Linked DNA regions of Homo sapiens: region 2 is linked to region 1. The links come from fine-mapping of genetic effects on gene expression. Tissue or cell type: whole blood. Region 1 holds a variant in brackets; the other region holds the start of a gene. All regions are shown on one strand. Distances are from middle to middle.

The links. PIP is the estimated chance that this variant, and not a neighbour inherited with it, causes the effect.
Region 2: it holds the start of MPP7, and the variant in region 1 is fine-mapped to the expression of MPP7 in whole blood (INTERVAL, PIP above 0.99).

What each region holds. Positions count from the first base shown.
Region 1 is chr10:28,339,111-28,347,294 of GRCh38, forward strand. It overlaps the pseudogene ZNF101P1. Among named protein-coding and RNA genes, the nearest start is that of MPP7-DT, 40 kb to the left of the region's middle. The variant C/A (reference allele first, on the strand shown) is at 4,771.
Region 2 is chr10:28,299,375-28,307,558 of GRCh38, forward strand. It overlaps MPP7 (MAGUK p55 scaffold protein 7), which reads right to left and starts at 3,690. Exons shown (of 17, transcript NM_001318170.2): 1 at 3,487-3,690. It overlaps MPP7-DT (MPP7 divergent transcript), which reads left to right and starts at 3,795. Exons shown (of 2, transcript XR_930772.3): 1 at 3,795-5,055; 2 at 6,025-6,897. RefSeq lists a silencer at 3,237-3,876.

The sequences.
Region 1 (8,184 bases):
TTGGCCAGGCTGGAGTGCAGTGATGTGATCACAGCTCACTGCTCACTGTCACCTCCATCTCTCAGCTTCAAGCAATCCTCCTGCCTCAGTTTTCTGAGTACTTGAAACTACCAGCACATACCACCCGACCCAGTTAATTTTTTTTCTTTTTTCTTTTTTGATACAAGGTCTTGTTATGTTGCCCAGGCTGGTCTCAAACTGCTGGACTCAGATGATCCTCCTGCCTCAGTCTTTCAAAGTACTGGCTGCACTGGGCAAAATGAGTTCTTTCCTGTAGTCAAAGGTAATTTTAAAAACTGAAGACTTGCCCACATTGTTTACAGTCATAGGGTTTTTGTTTAGCGTGAGTCCTTTCATGTCTTCCAAGGGAACTGCACGACCCAAAGGTCCTACCACACCTTCTACATTCATAGGATTTTCCTCCAGTATGAGTTTTTTCATGTCTTCAAAAGGAACTGAGATAATTAAAGGTTCTGCCCCATGTATTACATTCGTAGGGTTTCTCTCCAATATGAGTTCTTTCATGTGCTTGAAGGGACGTGGGACATCTAAAGACTTCACCACATTTTTTACATTCATGAAGGTTTCCTGCACTATGCATTTTTTTGTGTCTTCAAAGGAAACTGGAACAATTGCGTCTTTTCCCACATTCCTTACATTCATGAGATTTCTCGAGAACATGAGCTCTGATTTCATATGTCCAAAGGTAAGTTGAAGAAATGAATGCTTTACCACAGTGTTTGCATTGGTAAGGGTTTTCTCCAGTGTAAGTTCTAACATGTATTTGAAAGGAACTAGGGCCAGGCGCATTAGCTCACACCTTTTAATCCCAGCACTTTGGGAGGCCAAGGCAGGTGGATCACGTGAGGTCAGGAGTTCAAGACCAGCCTGGCCTGGTTTCACCTGATGAAACCCCATCTCTATTAAAAATGCAAAAATCAGCCAGATGTGGTGGTGCACGCCTGTAATCCCAGCTACTCGGGAGGCTGAGGCAGGATAATTGCTTGAACCCAGGAGGCAGAGGTTACAGTGAGCTGAGATCGCGCCACTGCACTCCAGCTTGGGTGACAGAGTGAGGCTCCATCTCAAAAAATAAATTTAATTTAATTAAAAATTAAAATGAAAGGAACTGGAACAATCAAATGTTTTTCCACAGTGTTTACATTCACAGCATTTTTCTCCAGTGTGAATGTTTTCATGTATTTGAAAGTAAATGAAAACAGTGAAGGCTCTCACAATTTCTCTACATTTATAGAACCTCTTTCCAGTGTGAGTTCATTGTGAAATAAATACTGAAATTAAGGGCTTTGCCTCATAGCTTGCATTTATAACATCCCTTTCTAGTGCATATTACCATGAGTCTTGGACCACTTCTGGGAGAAATGGAGGCTCTCCCACATTGTTTATGTTTATGGGGCTTTTCACCATATTCCCCACCACACTCATATTGTTTGTGTCCAGAGTGAGCTCATGTGCCTATGAAGGAATGAATGATGTACAAAGACTATTCCACACACACTGCCTTGCATGGTTTTACTCCAGTACGAATTTTCTTGTTCAGATGACAATCTGCTTTCTGGCTGCGGGTTTCTCCACATTGACTCCTTCTTTACATCCACAGAGTCTCTCCACCATATTATTTCGTAGCTTTCTCCCAAGATTTTGGGACAGATTTTCAATGTCCTGGCTTTCCATTTGATTCCTACAGACACCAGATTCCTGAAGGCTTCCAGCATTGCATTTCTGTAGAGATTCTTCCAGGAAGGTCCCAGCAAAGCCCACTCCTCCTGGGTGAAGTTCACAGCCACATTCTCAAAGCCTACTGAGTCCATTTCCAGCTTCCTGGTGTCCTGGCATCCTCTCTACGATTCAGGCAGCCACAGCAGGTCCCATGCAACAGAAGCTGCAGTATCAGGACCACCAGTGGCCTCCCAGAGGAATTGAAATCCCCTAATCTTATTTACAATCTTAAATGCAAAAGTCATAAATAAGTTATTAGAAAATTGAATCCTACAGTACATAATATATTATGATTAAAAAGTTCTATCCAGGAATCAAATAATAGTCCAAATTTTAAATGAATTAATTTTTTAAATGAATTTATGTAACTGTGAAACAACATTAATAAACTAAAAGAAAAAATTATATAACCAACTCAAAAGTGCTAAAGAAGGATTTAATAAAATTCAACATTTTATTCAAATTAAGTAAGTTAAAACTTTAGTAGCTCATAGTAGACATTTTTTAAAACTCTGCCCAGCACTCATTCACTCTTTTGTTGGGTTTTTAGGGAACCACCATGAGGTACACTGTATTTTGGGGGTCCCAACGAACCATACCTCCCATGCTCACACCTTTGTGTATTTCTCTCTCACATTTACTCTGAACTTGGCCATGTGACCAGTTTGGGCCAAATTAATTTTTAAAAAACTTTTATTTTAGGTTCAGGGGTAATTGTACAGGTTTGTTTTATAGATAAACTCACGTCACGAAAGATTGTTGTACAAATTATTTCATGACCCAGGTACTAAGACTAGTACTCAATAAGTATTTTTTCTGATCCTCTCCCCCTCGCACCCTTCACCCTCAAGTAGGCCCCCACATCTGTTGTTTCCCTCGCTGTATCCATGTGTTCTCATCATTTAGCTCCTACTTACAAATGAGAACATGTGGTTATTTGTTTCTGTTTCTGGGTTAGTTTGCTAAGGATAACGGCCTGCAGCTCCATCCATATTCCTGCAAAGGATATGATCTTGTTCTTTTTTATGGCTGCATAGTATTCCATGGTGTACATGTGCCACATTTTCTTATCCAGTCTATCATTGAGGAGCATTTGTGTTGATTCCATTTCTTTGCTATTGTGAATAGTGCTGCAATGAACATGCACGTGCATGTGTCTTTATGATAGAATGATTTATATTCCTTTGGGTATAGACCCAGTAATGGGATTGCTGGGTCAAACGGTAGTTCTGTCTTCAGCCCTTTTAGGGATTGCCACACTGCTTTTCACAATGGTTGAACGAATTTATGCTCCCAAAACAGTATATAAGTGTTCCCTTTTCTCACAACCTTGCCAGCATCTGTCATTTTTTGACTTTTAATAACAGCCATTCTGACTGGTGTGAGATGGTACCTCATTGTGGTTTTGATTTGTATTTCTGTAATAATCAGTGACTTTCTTTCATATGCTTGTTGGCTGCATGTATATCTTCTTTTGAAAAGTGTTCATGCCTTTGCTCACTTTTTAATGAGGTGATTTGTTTTTTTCCTGTAAGTTTGTTTAAGTTCCAATGTAGATGCTGGATATTAGGCCTTTGTCAGATACAGTCTGCAAAAATTTTCTCCCATTCTGTAGGTTGTCTGTTCACTCTGTTGATAGTTTATTTTGCTGCGCAGAAGATCTTTAGTTTAATTAGATCCCATTTGTCAATTGTTGCTTTTCTTGCATTACTTTTGGTGTCTTCATCATGAAATATTTGCCCTTTCCTATGTCCAGAATGGTATTGCCTATGTTGTCTTCCAGGGTTTTTATAGTTTGGGGTTTTACATTTAAGTCTTTTATCCATCTTGAGTTGATGTTTGTATGTGGTGTAAAGAAGGGGGCTGGTTTCAATCTTCTGCATATGGATAGCCAGTTATCCCAGCACCATTTATTGAATAGGGAGTTCTTTCCCTATCGCTTATTTTGTCAGCTTTGTTGAAGATCAGATGGTTATATGTGTTTGGTCTTATTCCTGGGCTCTCTATTCTGTTCCATTGGTCTATGTGTCTGTTTTTGTACCAGAACCATGCTGTTCTGGTTAATGTAGCCCTGTAGTATAGTTTGAAGTCAGGTAGCATGATGCCTGCTTTGTTCTTTTGCTTAGGATTGACTTGGCTATTTGGGCTCTTTTTTGGTTCCATATGAATTTTAAAATCATTTTTTCCACTTCTGTGAAAAATGTCATTAGTAATTTGATAGGAATAGCAGGCAGTATGATCATTTTAACAATATTGAGTCTTCCTAACCATAAGCATGAAATGTTTTTCCATTTGTGTCGTCTCTGATTTCTTTGAGTAGTGTTTCATAATTCTCATCGTAGAGATCTTTCACCTTCCTGGTTAGCTATATTCCTGGTATTTTCTTCTTTTTGTGGCAATTGCGAATGGGATTGGGTTCCTGATTAGGCTCTTGGCTTGGCTGTTGTTGGTGTATGGGAATGCCAGTGATTTCTGTATATTAATTTTGTATTCTGAAATTTTGTTGAAGTTGCTTAAAAGCTCAGGGAGCTTTTGATAAGACTATGGGGTTTTCTAGATATAGAATCATGTAGCCTGCAAAGAGGGATAGTTTCACTTCCCTCTCTTTCTTTTTGGATGCCCTTTATTTCTTTCTCCCATCTGTTTGCTCTAGCCAGGACTTCTAACACTATGTTGAATAGGAGTGATAAAGCAGGGCATCCTTGCCTTGTGCCTGTTTTCAAGGGGAATGCTTCCAGTTTTTGCCCACTAAATATGATCGTGGCTGTAGGTTTGTCATAGATGGCTCTTATTATTTTGAGGTATGTTCCTTCAATACCTAGTTTGTTGAGAGTTTTTAACATGAAGGGATGTTGAATTTTGTCCAAAGCCTTTTCTGCATCTATTAAGTTAATTATGTGGTTTTCATCTTTAGTTCTGTTTATGTGATGAATCATGTTTATTGATTTGCATATGTTGAACCAGCCTTGCATACCAGGGATAAATCCTACTTGATCATGTTAGATTAGCTTTCTGGTGTGCTGCTGGATT[C/A]TATTTGTTAGTATTTTGTTGAGAATTTTTGTATCAATGTTCATCAAGGATATTGGCCTGAAGTTTATGTTTTTTGTTGTGTCTCTGCCAGGTTTTGGTATCAGGATGATGCTGGTTCATAGAATGAGTTGAGGAGCAGTCCCTCCTCCTCACAAATTGATATTATTAAATGTTGCAAAGCAGAGGCTTCATAAGCATTTGCATATTGGTGATTGTTCTCTAAGAATGCCCATTCTTGGAACCTAGCTGACATATTCTGAGGAAGTCCAAGCAGTCACATGGGAGAGATCCACATCAAAGAAAAATGAGGGTTTCAGCTGACAGCCCCATTTAAGACCCAGGTAGAGACCAACTGTCAGCCATGGGAGTGAAGCAATTCTGGACCTTCCAACCACCAAGTCTAGCTCCCCAGCCAATACCATGTGACACAGAAGATCTACAATCTACAAATCATGAACAACAACAAATGATTGTTTTAAGCCACGAAATGTGGTGGTAGTTTGATATAACATGGCAGAGAACTGAAACACTTTCAACATAAACATTGTCACAAAAAATGTAGAAGTTGTCAGCAAATAAATGTTGCAACATAAACATATGACCCAACCATAGTTCAGGTTGGGTCAGCGGTATTCCAGCCGATTAAAAGAAGGGTTGGCAAACATTTTCTATAGCGAACACAAGATAGTAAATAGTTTAAGCTTTTTGATCTCTGTTCCATATGATCTCTGTTCAACTACTCAGCCTGCCATTATAGCACAAAAGAAGTTATAGACAAAACACAATTGAATTGTATGGTGCTTTCCAATAAAACTTTATTTACAAAAACAGGCAGCAAACTGGATTTGACCAAGGGGCTATAGCTACCAACGCTTCATTAAGTGTATCACATTACTTGGCTGTAGGGTTTGGTTTATACAAACCCACTGTGGAAGCGAGAGGAAGAACAGAATCCTGTGTGAGTTATAGATTGTGGTATAAGCCAATAATAGTGTCATTAGCTAAGAAAGGAATGCTGAAAACGGAGTAGACTTGGAGGCAGGGCTCAGAATTAAGAGTATGATTTTGGCTTCATTAAGGTTGAGATGTCTCTGAGATATCCAAATGGATATAGGAGTATGTATTTGAACACTCTAGAAAGAAGTTTGGCAAACATAAATGTAGAAGTTGTCAGCAAATAAACTGTACTTGAAGCCATCGAACTGGGTAGAAAAGAGGGCTGAGGACTAAGCTCAAGCTCACCAGGACTTTCCACATACAGAGACAAAAATGAGGAAGAGAAGTAAGTGATATAGTTTGCATGTCTGTCCCCTCCAAATCTCATGCTGAAATGTAATCCCCAGTGCTGGGGGTGGGGTCTGGTGGGGGGTGATCGGGTCACATGGCAGATCTTTCAGGAATGGCTTAGCACCATCTCCTTGGTGATGAGTGGGTTCTCGCTCAGTTCACACAAGATCTGGTTGTTTAAAAGAGTCTAGGACCTCCTTCTTCTCTCTCTCTTACTCCCTCTCTTGCTCCTACTCTTGCCATGTGATGCACCCATTCTCGCTTTGCCTTTCGCCATGAGTAAATGCTTCCTGAGGCCTCCCCAGAAGCAGAGCAGATGCCAGCACCGTGCCTGCACAGCCTGCAGAACTATGAGCATATTAAACCTCTTTTCTTTATAAATTACCCAGGAGCTGGTATTTCTTCATAGCAGCACAAGAACAGACCAACACAGCAAGTAAAGAAAACTAAAAAGGAGTGGCCAATGAAGAGGGAATAAGGCCAAAAGAGCATGATGCCCCAGATGCCAAGCAGAGAGAGGGATTGAAGGAAAGATGGTCAAGTGGATAATAATAGGTAATGCTCTGAGATGAGGACAGTGAATTACCAAGTGGATTTGGCACAATAGAGGTCTCTGATAACTTCAACTTGAGGAGTTTTAGTGGTGTGGGGTGGGTACAGGGAACAAAAGCACATATGGCATAAGAGTGGCATAAATTGACATAAGAGTAATGATGGGCTAGGGAGTAGAAACAAGGAGTATAGGCATGTTTTTTCAGGGAGCCACAAGAGGTGTTTTGTTTAAGTGTGATGTTGTGCCAAGTGTTGCTAGGTCTCTGGAATCCATATGTTCATACAATTTGGAAGGAAAATAAAGAATTGTAGAAAATGGAAGAATTTTTTTTAATAGGAAATTTTCCTAGAACCAGCAGCAGAAGTTTCCTATTAGTATGTAGGAAGGAAAGTATTCAAATGAAATTCCAGAACTCTCACTAATATCTACCAGAAATCCAGAACAACATCATTTTTAATAACAAAATAGAAACATTAAAATTAGGATCAAATCAAGAATGTCGAGAAACACTGCTGTTATTCCACATTGTATTAGAGCCCTAGCCGATGCAGTAGATGCAAAAAATAAGATAAGATGTAATATTTGAAAGAGAGACTTTCATTATTTATATGCTGTAAAATCAGTGGTATGATGATATATGATAAACAACTGGTTCTGAGTGTAGTTTCCAGTATGAATGTTGGTTGATGGTTTTATTTATATATGAACAACTTAAAATTAAAATGGAACAACTTGAAATTAAAGTGAAACAACTTGCCTGAACTTCACTTGTTGGTCAATGATATGAGCAACTTCTTGGTTAAATTGAAAAATCGTTTTTGAATACTTCAAGAGTATTTATTTCCTCAATTTTTTGTGTTTTTCACAATGTAATGACTACAGGTATGACACATTCACAAGTTTAATCTCTGTGTTGTCTGTTTTGTGTCATCCTAACAAAATATCTGAGACTGGGTAATTTATAAAGAAAAGAGATTTGGCCAGGTGTGGTAACCCACACCTATAGTCCCAGCACTTTGAGAGGCCAAGACAGGTGGATTGCCTGAGCCTCAGAGTTCAAGACCAGCCTGGGCAACATATTGAAACCCAGTCTGTACAAAAAAAATTTACAAAAAATTAGCTGGATGTGGTGGCACACACCTGCAGTTCCAGCTACTTGGGAGGCTGAGGTGGGAGGATCGCTTGAACCCAGGAGGTGGAGGTTGCAGTGAGCCAAGATCATGCCACTGCACTCCAGCCTGGGGAACAGAAGAAAGAAAGGAAAGAAAGGAAAGGAAAGGAAAGGAAAGGAAAGGAAAGGAAAGGAAAGGAAAGGAAAGGAAAGGAAAGGACAGGAAAGGGAGAAAGAAAGAGGAAGGAATGAAGGAAGGAAGGAAGGAGAAAGAAAGGGAAAAGAAGAAAGAAAAAAAGAAAGAAAGAGAGAAAAAAAGAAAGGAAAGAAAGAAAGAAAGAGAAAAGAGAAAGAAAGAAAGAGGAGAAAAGAGGTTTATTTAGCTCACACAGTTCTGCAGGCTGGGAAGTTCAAGGGCATGGCCTTGGTTTCTGGCAAGGTCTTTTGTACTGCATCATAACGT
Region 2 (8,184 bases), 40 kb before region 1:
GGGAATGGCCAGTTGGTGGAGATATCAGAACATATGTAACATTTATCAGTTAAGTTCACCATATTATATAGGTGCAGTTCATGGAGCCCCAAAACAATTAGAATCGTAACATCAAAGATCACTGACCAGAGATCACCATAACAGACAGAATAACAATGAAAAGTTTGCAATATTGTGAGAATTACCAAAATATGACAGAGACACACAAAATGAACATACACTATTGGAAAAATAGCACCAATCGACTTGCAGGGTTGCCAACGAACCTTCAGTTTGTAAAAAACACAGTATCTTCAGAGAGCAAGCCTGACTAACAATTTCCTTCACTTTAAATTCAAAATGAAGGAATACCCTTTCCTTCCGAATGTATCTCATTTAACAAAATTCAAGACTTTTTTTTTTTTTTTTTGAGACGGAGTCTCGCTCTGTGGCCCAGGCTGGAGTGCAGTGGCACGATCTCAGCTTACTGCAAGCTCTGCCTCTTGGGTTCAGGCCAATTCTCCTGCCTCAGCCTCCCGAGTAGCTGGGATTACAGGCGCCCACCACCACGCCCGGCTAATTTTTTCTATTTTTTAGTAGAGACAGGGTTTCACCGTGTTAGCCAGGATGGTCTCAATCTCCTGACCTTGTGATCCGCCCGCCTCGGCCTCCCAAAGTGCTGGGATTACAGGCGTGAGCCACCATGCCTGGCCAAAACTCAAGACTTAAGTCATTCATTACAATTTTGTCTGAATTGCAATTAGGAGAGAAACAGCTGCAGTACCTTTGTATCTTTGTCAGTGAAATGTTTATAACAAGGAAAAACAAAAATCTGTTTGAAATCTCCAGTAAGCGCCCCCCAGTGCACCATCTAGTGGAAGTCAGGTAGTGTCATAATTAATTTAAAGAAAAAAGTCACAGAAACTCTGAAAACCATTGGGGGAGGGGGAGAAGTCAAAGCTTCAGGTAAGAATACAAGCAAATACTTTACAAACAGCCAAAATATCTTTCCAGTGTCCCACAATGCAAGAGGGCTGGGCTTATGAGAATAAATGATTCATTTTCTGTATAATCAACAGATGATAAAAGTTCCTTTATGGAAATTTTTGCTTGGGTGCTAGAAATTTTGACAGGAGAGTAAAAGTTAAATAAAGCCACTAAAACATAAATAAGTAAATAAATGCTGGGCTAGAGTGACAGCCTTGTGTAAGAAGAGTTGCCTTATATGTTACATGAATATGTTAAAATGTACATGTGAAACAGAGGTATTAGCCACAAAACAAGAGATAACTTCATGATTAGAACAGTTACATTCAGGCTGGGTGCAATGGCTCACGCCTGTAATCCCAGCACTTTGGGAGGCCAAGGCAGGCAGATCACTTGAGGTCAGGAGTTCGAGACCAGCCTGGCCAACATAGTGAAACCCCATCTCTACAAAAATATTAAAAAAAAAAAAATAGCTGGGCGTGGTGGCATGCGCCTGTAGTCCCAGCTACTCAAGAGGCTGAGGCAGGAGAATCACTTGAACCAGGGAGGCAGAGATCACAGTGAGCCACAGCACTCCAGCCTGGACAACAGAGTGAGACTCCACCTCAGAAAAAAAAAAAAAAAGAGTTCCATTCAGTAATCCATAAGACATTTTCATGTTCCTGATAACTAGTAAATTTAACAAAACCTAACGATTCTCTAGAATTCCCTAAGCCTTAACATCATACAAGCGGCTACTCCCAACTACCCATTTCAGCCTGTCCCACACTAATGCCCAAACTCCTTTGGTCAAGTTATTCTAATTAAGAAATTATTCTTCAATCCGTCTATAAATTTACAGTAAACACTTCCCGAAACAAAGTCATAAGTCATGATCAAAATGCATTACACTTCATTAGTATTTTCCTTCTGCATATCAATTATTTCTATTCAATTCAAAAAAAGGTACCGAAATTCAATGCTGAGCTAGAGATGCAAACACAAATAAGGTTCTCTAATTTGGAAAGCTTCCCAAAATTTAAAATAGAGATTTTCACACAGCATTCCTAACTTTTGTTTGTTTTGCCTGTGTGGAAAATTACCTTTCACCTGAAATTCAAACTAGCTAAGCAACCTGAATGGAAAGAAAAACCTCGCAGATAATATTTCTTTACTTGAAAATAACCATCTCCACCTCTGACCTGTGTATACGGGATCAAATTGGTATGCAGAAGTTGGCTTGATGGCGGGAATCTTACCCAGATTTTGGATTAAATCCATTATAGGTATAAAATAAAGTAGGAGTAAAGTGGGGCAGGATTCCTTTCATTTCTAGGGCTTTCAGTTGACATACCTGTAAAATGGACATGCTATGCACAGCCTGCCTCAGAAGAGTAGGAGGATGGCATACTATATAATTGATAGAGTGCTATGAGCTTCACGATTAAATGGAAATACTGTTTTTATAGAACCAGAGTGAACCTGAGCATAGAAAACTCTCCAAGGGCCATCGCTGTGACATTACCGCTAAAACTCAGTGACCTTCATCAATTCACTTGTAAACAAGCAATATATTGAGCAAGTCAAAGGAAAGGCAGCAACAATTCAAGATACTTCTTTATAAGTAAATCAAATTACGTAATTAATAGCCCAGGATTTACCTGCAAACTATTACTGCCTGACTAGCAGGTGCATCCCCAAAGCCTCGAGTACAGAGACTGTTTTTAGAGAGCCCCCCCTTTTTTAAATGTGAATATTGCTTTTAAAAATTAGAAAAAGAAAAAAATCACAATTCTACTCCCACCCATGGCACAGTGACAGAAACAAGGTCCCACCCCCACAATCCTTTCAAACCTGCACAGGCATTCCTCACGAACACTCCTCCCCCTCATTCCTACCTCACCGCTCCCCACTTCAGCCCAGACAAAGCTGAGTTACTCGGCTGGGTCTACCTGTCACTTAAGAAAAAGCCCCCAAATAGATTCACGCTAAATGCTGCTTTTAATTTTTTAAATAGCAAATAAGTAAATAAATAATGCTATCGTGTAGATTACACGGCCAAACGCCTGTTCTCAGAAAACATGTAATTAACACGACCCAAGTGAAGACGCCTTTCTGGCTTAGGGAAAGAAAAAAAAGAAGCCAGCCAGCTTATCGCTCCCTTTCAGTCGGTTCTTTTCCCCGGGGAGCCGGACTCTGACTCAACTCCGCAGTTTTTCCTCCACCTGTCGGTTCTCCCCGCTCTGGGTCTGCCCCGCCGCCGCCCCCGCCCGGAGTCCCGCGCGTCAACAGGGGTCTCCAGGGGTCCTCAGGGTCCCGCCCGAGGCGGCCCCGCCCCTGCCCCGGCCCCGCCCCCACCTCCTCACAAGGTGCCCGCCGCGGGCTCCCAGGCTGAGGCGCCTAGAGGCCGGCAGGAGGCTCCGGAGGACCGCGGCACCGCTCGGCCCGGTCGCCGGCGCAGGGAGCAGCTTCGGGGGCCGACCCCACCGCCCGAGCCTAGCCCTGGGCTCCGACAGGCGCTCCCCAGAGGCGCCCCATTACCTGCTCTGGGCTGCCGCGGTCCGCGGGCAGGAGGCGCACTCGCTCTGGCCCCTGCAGCCCCGGGCCCGGAGGCAAGGAGGCAGCGACCGCCACCGCCGCAGAGGACAATCGGGAGCCAGCGGGCTCGGCACCGCCGCGGCGGGCGCAGAACGCACGAGCCCAGTGGGAGCCCGGCCCCCGCCTCCAGCCCGGCTAGTAACCAACACGGCCCCCACCCTCGGAGGGGCGGGACCGCGGTTGGAGGGGCGGGGCGGGGCTGCACCGCCCGCGGGTAAGAGGGGCCTGCTGATAGGCTGCGAAGGCGATAGGCGTCTCAGACTTGAAGACGCCTCTCCAGCAGAACTCCCTCATTGGTCGGCAAGAGAAAACAAAGCTGGGCTCTGATTGGTGACAGCTCTGTAGCTCCTCCTCATACCCGCAGTCCCCGCAAGTTCCACCCCTGCCCGCCCGGTTCGCTCGCCCTTGGTTCCCACTCCCAGGTGGCTGCAGACTGGAGTGTGTTTCATGGACGAGCAACCTCCCTGAGGAGAACCCCGGATACGCAGGTTCATTCGCCAGATGCGAGTTTTCTTAAGCCGCTGCGATTCTCTGATTTCAGTATGAACTTGGTGAATAACGTAATCTTTAACTTCCTTTGGATTCAGACAAGTCTCCTAGGTTTAAAAATGCTGCATAAGATTGAGAGGGATATTGTTATGCACGAAAAAAGACATAAGGTGTTTTCACCTTTGGCGACACTGTAGGTGACTTTTTCTTATTACCTTTTTGTGTTCCATATTGAACATGTACTACATGATTAGAAAAAAAAATTCTTAAATAGAAAAATGAGTAGGGTGCGGAGAATGGTAAAGACAAACTTTAAGGAAATCCAGAGAACTGATTCTTTCACAATAGAAGAAAATACAGTAAACATGCTTAATATCTGAGGGCTACCCCGAAAAAACATGAACTGGTATCAGCGCCCTTCAGCTCTCTTAAAGAACTTTACATATGTGACCGAGGTGCCCCCATACTCCTTCCTATCATGTAACCAACACATAATGTGGACAGCACTACACTGCAAACAGAATTACAGGAAGACTCTTATAGGAAGAATTAGAATCCAAAGTACACAATCAATAAAGCTTTAGAAAAAGGGGTAGTAAAAAGCAGAAGACAAAAAAAAATCAGGTAATATAAATTGGAAAGCTCAGCTGATGGAGGGAATCATCAGAAAAAAAATAATGTGACAACACTTCAAGATGTGATAGAGACTTTGAATGGAAAGCTGAAGGGAGAGGAAGGGGATTGAGATAAGGATCAATGACCTGCAGTTAATATGAGCTCTCAGAACACATCCCCCAGAACTGGTGTCAGCCTAGAAGGCAAGAAGCATTTCTCACCTAGGGACCACTCTCACTTAACTCTCTCTAGCTGCCTTAACATTCTGTTTGTTCTTGTCATTCTCGCAAAGTTCTAAAACAGGCTATTTGAAATTAAGCACTTCCCCCCAGCAACTCCGTGAATTACGTAATAGTGAAAAATGGAGATAGACAAAAAGCAAACCTGAGGAAGGAAAGGAATGTTAAGGTAAACATAAACTTAAAGAGAAGTAAGGGCAAAACACCTGATAGAAAGAAGACAAGAAATTCTTTTTTCTCTCTTACTTCCTGAGAATAAAGTAAAGGTCTTTGGAGGACAGAATAACCTTATTGCCTAACAAAAAGAGTTTTTACCAAACCTTTCTAATAATAACTGTAATTCTAAACTGTAGTCTAAAAATACGTGTCCTAAAGTAAGTACTTTGAGCAAATAGTTTTGAGATCTAATATTTTTACATTGTGTAAGGAAAAGAAGAGGAACTTAGCCTAGTATGAACAAACTGTAGGGAATACCCTTCAAAAGTTTCTTCTACAATAACACCTGAAATTCCATCACTAACATTCTTTCACTGGGATTAAATAATGTATGTCTAAGATTATTCTTTTATTCATTTACTCATCAAACGTAATCAATATTAATCATCAAATACTAGATACTGCAATGAACGAGGCTTTCTACTAAGCACTCAGAGTATAGCCTTGAACAAGACAGACTTGCAGCTGTTTTTATCAGAAGATGGACAATGATCCAATAAAAAGATAAACTTCCAGACCGGGATCAGGGCAAAGAAGAAAACAGTGACCAGAGGGATGGGAGACACACTTAATTTTGGGAAAGGAGAAAAATGCTTTAAGGAGAAATGATCTAAGAGAAATGCTCTAAGATTTGAGGCACCACCTAAATAAGAAAACACCAACTTAGCAAAACTCCAGGGCAGATAAAATAGCAAGAACAAAGGACTTGAAGTAGGAAGAAAAGTGATGTATAGCAGGAACAGAGAGAAAGCCAGCATGGGTATCATGGTGCATAAGGAGAGTGCTACTAGACAGGTTGGAGAAGGAGGTGAGGACCTCGTAGGCAATGGTAACTTTGTATTTTGTTACAAGGATTCCTGACGGGCAACATCGAGTTGCTGATAGTGGAGTAAAATCATTATTTTTTTTTTTCCTTTTTCAGAGTCACCAGTAAAATGAGCATTCATTCATTAAGCCAATCATCAGGAATGGATCTAGGAAGAACCTACTGTTTACTAGAAATAGGTTAGATCTGTGGATATAACAATGAATAAGACAAGACTGGTGGATCTATAGAGAAACTATTACTGCACAGGTGATGGGGAAATCAAGAGTACTATGGGGCCAAGGAGACTGTCCTGCAGCAAATGAGGAATAAGCTGAAACATCAGTAGGAGCCATCCCAGAGAAAAGGGACAGGGTTCTAGATCCAGAGAACAACAGAAGAGCATTCAGCGCCTGCAAGGGAGCAGGGGATCTAATGCAAAGCCATTGCATAACCAGTCAACTTTCCCCACATCACAAGATTGCCTAGCCTGGATGGCCCCAGAATGTTGAAACAAATGTCTAATTAGTAACGACATTCTGAATGCTTGGGAGCTGAGCAAAATATGAGGAGAAGCAACCTGATTTTTGTTTCATATTATCATCTCCTTTATTCCAGCAACAAAAGACACTGAAAATAGTAAATGCCCACTTTCAACCATGACAGCCCTTTTAGGATAGTAACGGTGAGCAGTATTAATCCTATTTGACCAGAACTAGGGCAGAATTGAAGCCCCTGGAGTAGAGATCTGTTCTATTAGCCCCAGCCTTTCCGCCTGCTTCTTGGGATGGCTATCTTTACTTTATCAGTTGAGCCTCCAGCATTAGCAGATACCTATAAGGGAAGAGATCCAGCCCTCACTATGGAGGGCCAGAAAGAGAAAGCACCAGACATTAGGAAATGTCAAAGTATCTCAGTACATCCAGCTGATTAGTGACAGATAAGTCAAAATTTGCAGCAACTAAATAAATCAAAAAGTAGATTTTAAAATGTGATCTTTGAAATATTTGGCACAATGCTTCAAAGCCACTGAAAAGCTATCTCTTCACCCTAATAGAGGACAGAAATTCATTAGATAGACAGAAGAGGCTGCATACAGTAGCCCATGCCCATAATCTCAACAACTTTGGAGGCCAAGGTGGAAAGATTACTTGAGGCCAGGAAATCAACACCAGCCTGAGCAACATAGCAAGACATCTTTACAAAAAATTTAAAAATTAGCCAGGTTTGGTGGTGTGCAGCTGTAGTCCTAGCTACTCGGGAGGCTGAGGTGGGAGGATTGCTTGAGGCCAGGAGTTCTAGGCTGCAGTGAACAGAGATTTTGCCACTGCGTTCCAGCCTGGGCAACAGAGTAAGACCCTGTCTCTAAAATAGATGATAGATAGATAGAGAGAGAGAGAGAGATGATAGATAATAGATAGTTGATAGATAGATGATAGATAATAGATAGTTGATAGATAGATAATAGATCGTTGATTGATAGATTAGATAGATGTATAATAGAACCCAAAGGCAAAAATAAGTTAGTCCTCAGGAAGACCCAGATCGCAGACCTGAAAAGCCAGGAGGAACTCAATGGAATTTTTTTCCATAGCAGGTGCTCTCTCTACACCTGTGCTCTATTCTCCTATTCTGATAACCAGCCCCTGGCTCCTATGTCCCAGTGTCAGAGAAATGATGTTCCAGAGCTGCACCCACAAGGACTAAATCACCTGCCTAACCCTAACCCTAATCATAGATGATGGGGGCTGCAGGGGACCAGTATGGCTGCCAGGGCCCATCCCTGTTTATGAGCAGAGGTTTCCCAGAGAAGACACACTGGGCAGATTACCAGACACGCATTCATTGCACCCCTGACATTTTCAATCGCCAGTCAATGAGGCTTCCTTTCTAGTTACTGAAAGTCTTCACCTGCTGTTTATAGTAAACTGGAGACCTAGAGGCCAAGGCCGAAGGCTTGGATGGTAATTTCCCACATTCTCTGGAAATCTTTCTACTTCAGTTGGCTTCCAGACACCCAGTACCCTTGTGTGTTCCAGTTTCAAGTTGCCATTCTTGTTCAGGTCTTCTAGTAATTTCCTGTTTCCCTATCTGAAGTGTACCTCCTGACATCAATGTATTCAAAGAGCAAATGCTCCTGCCAAATCTATGAGTGTCAGTGAACTAGCCTGCTGCTCTGGGCTCAGATGAGACCAGCTTGCAGAACAAGCAGGACAGAGGCGTGAAGGGAAGCAGATGGCAAACCTCGATCTGCCACCATCCCTTCCACAGGCATTC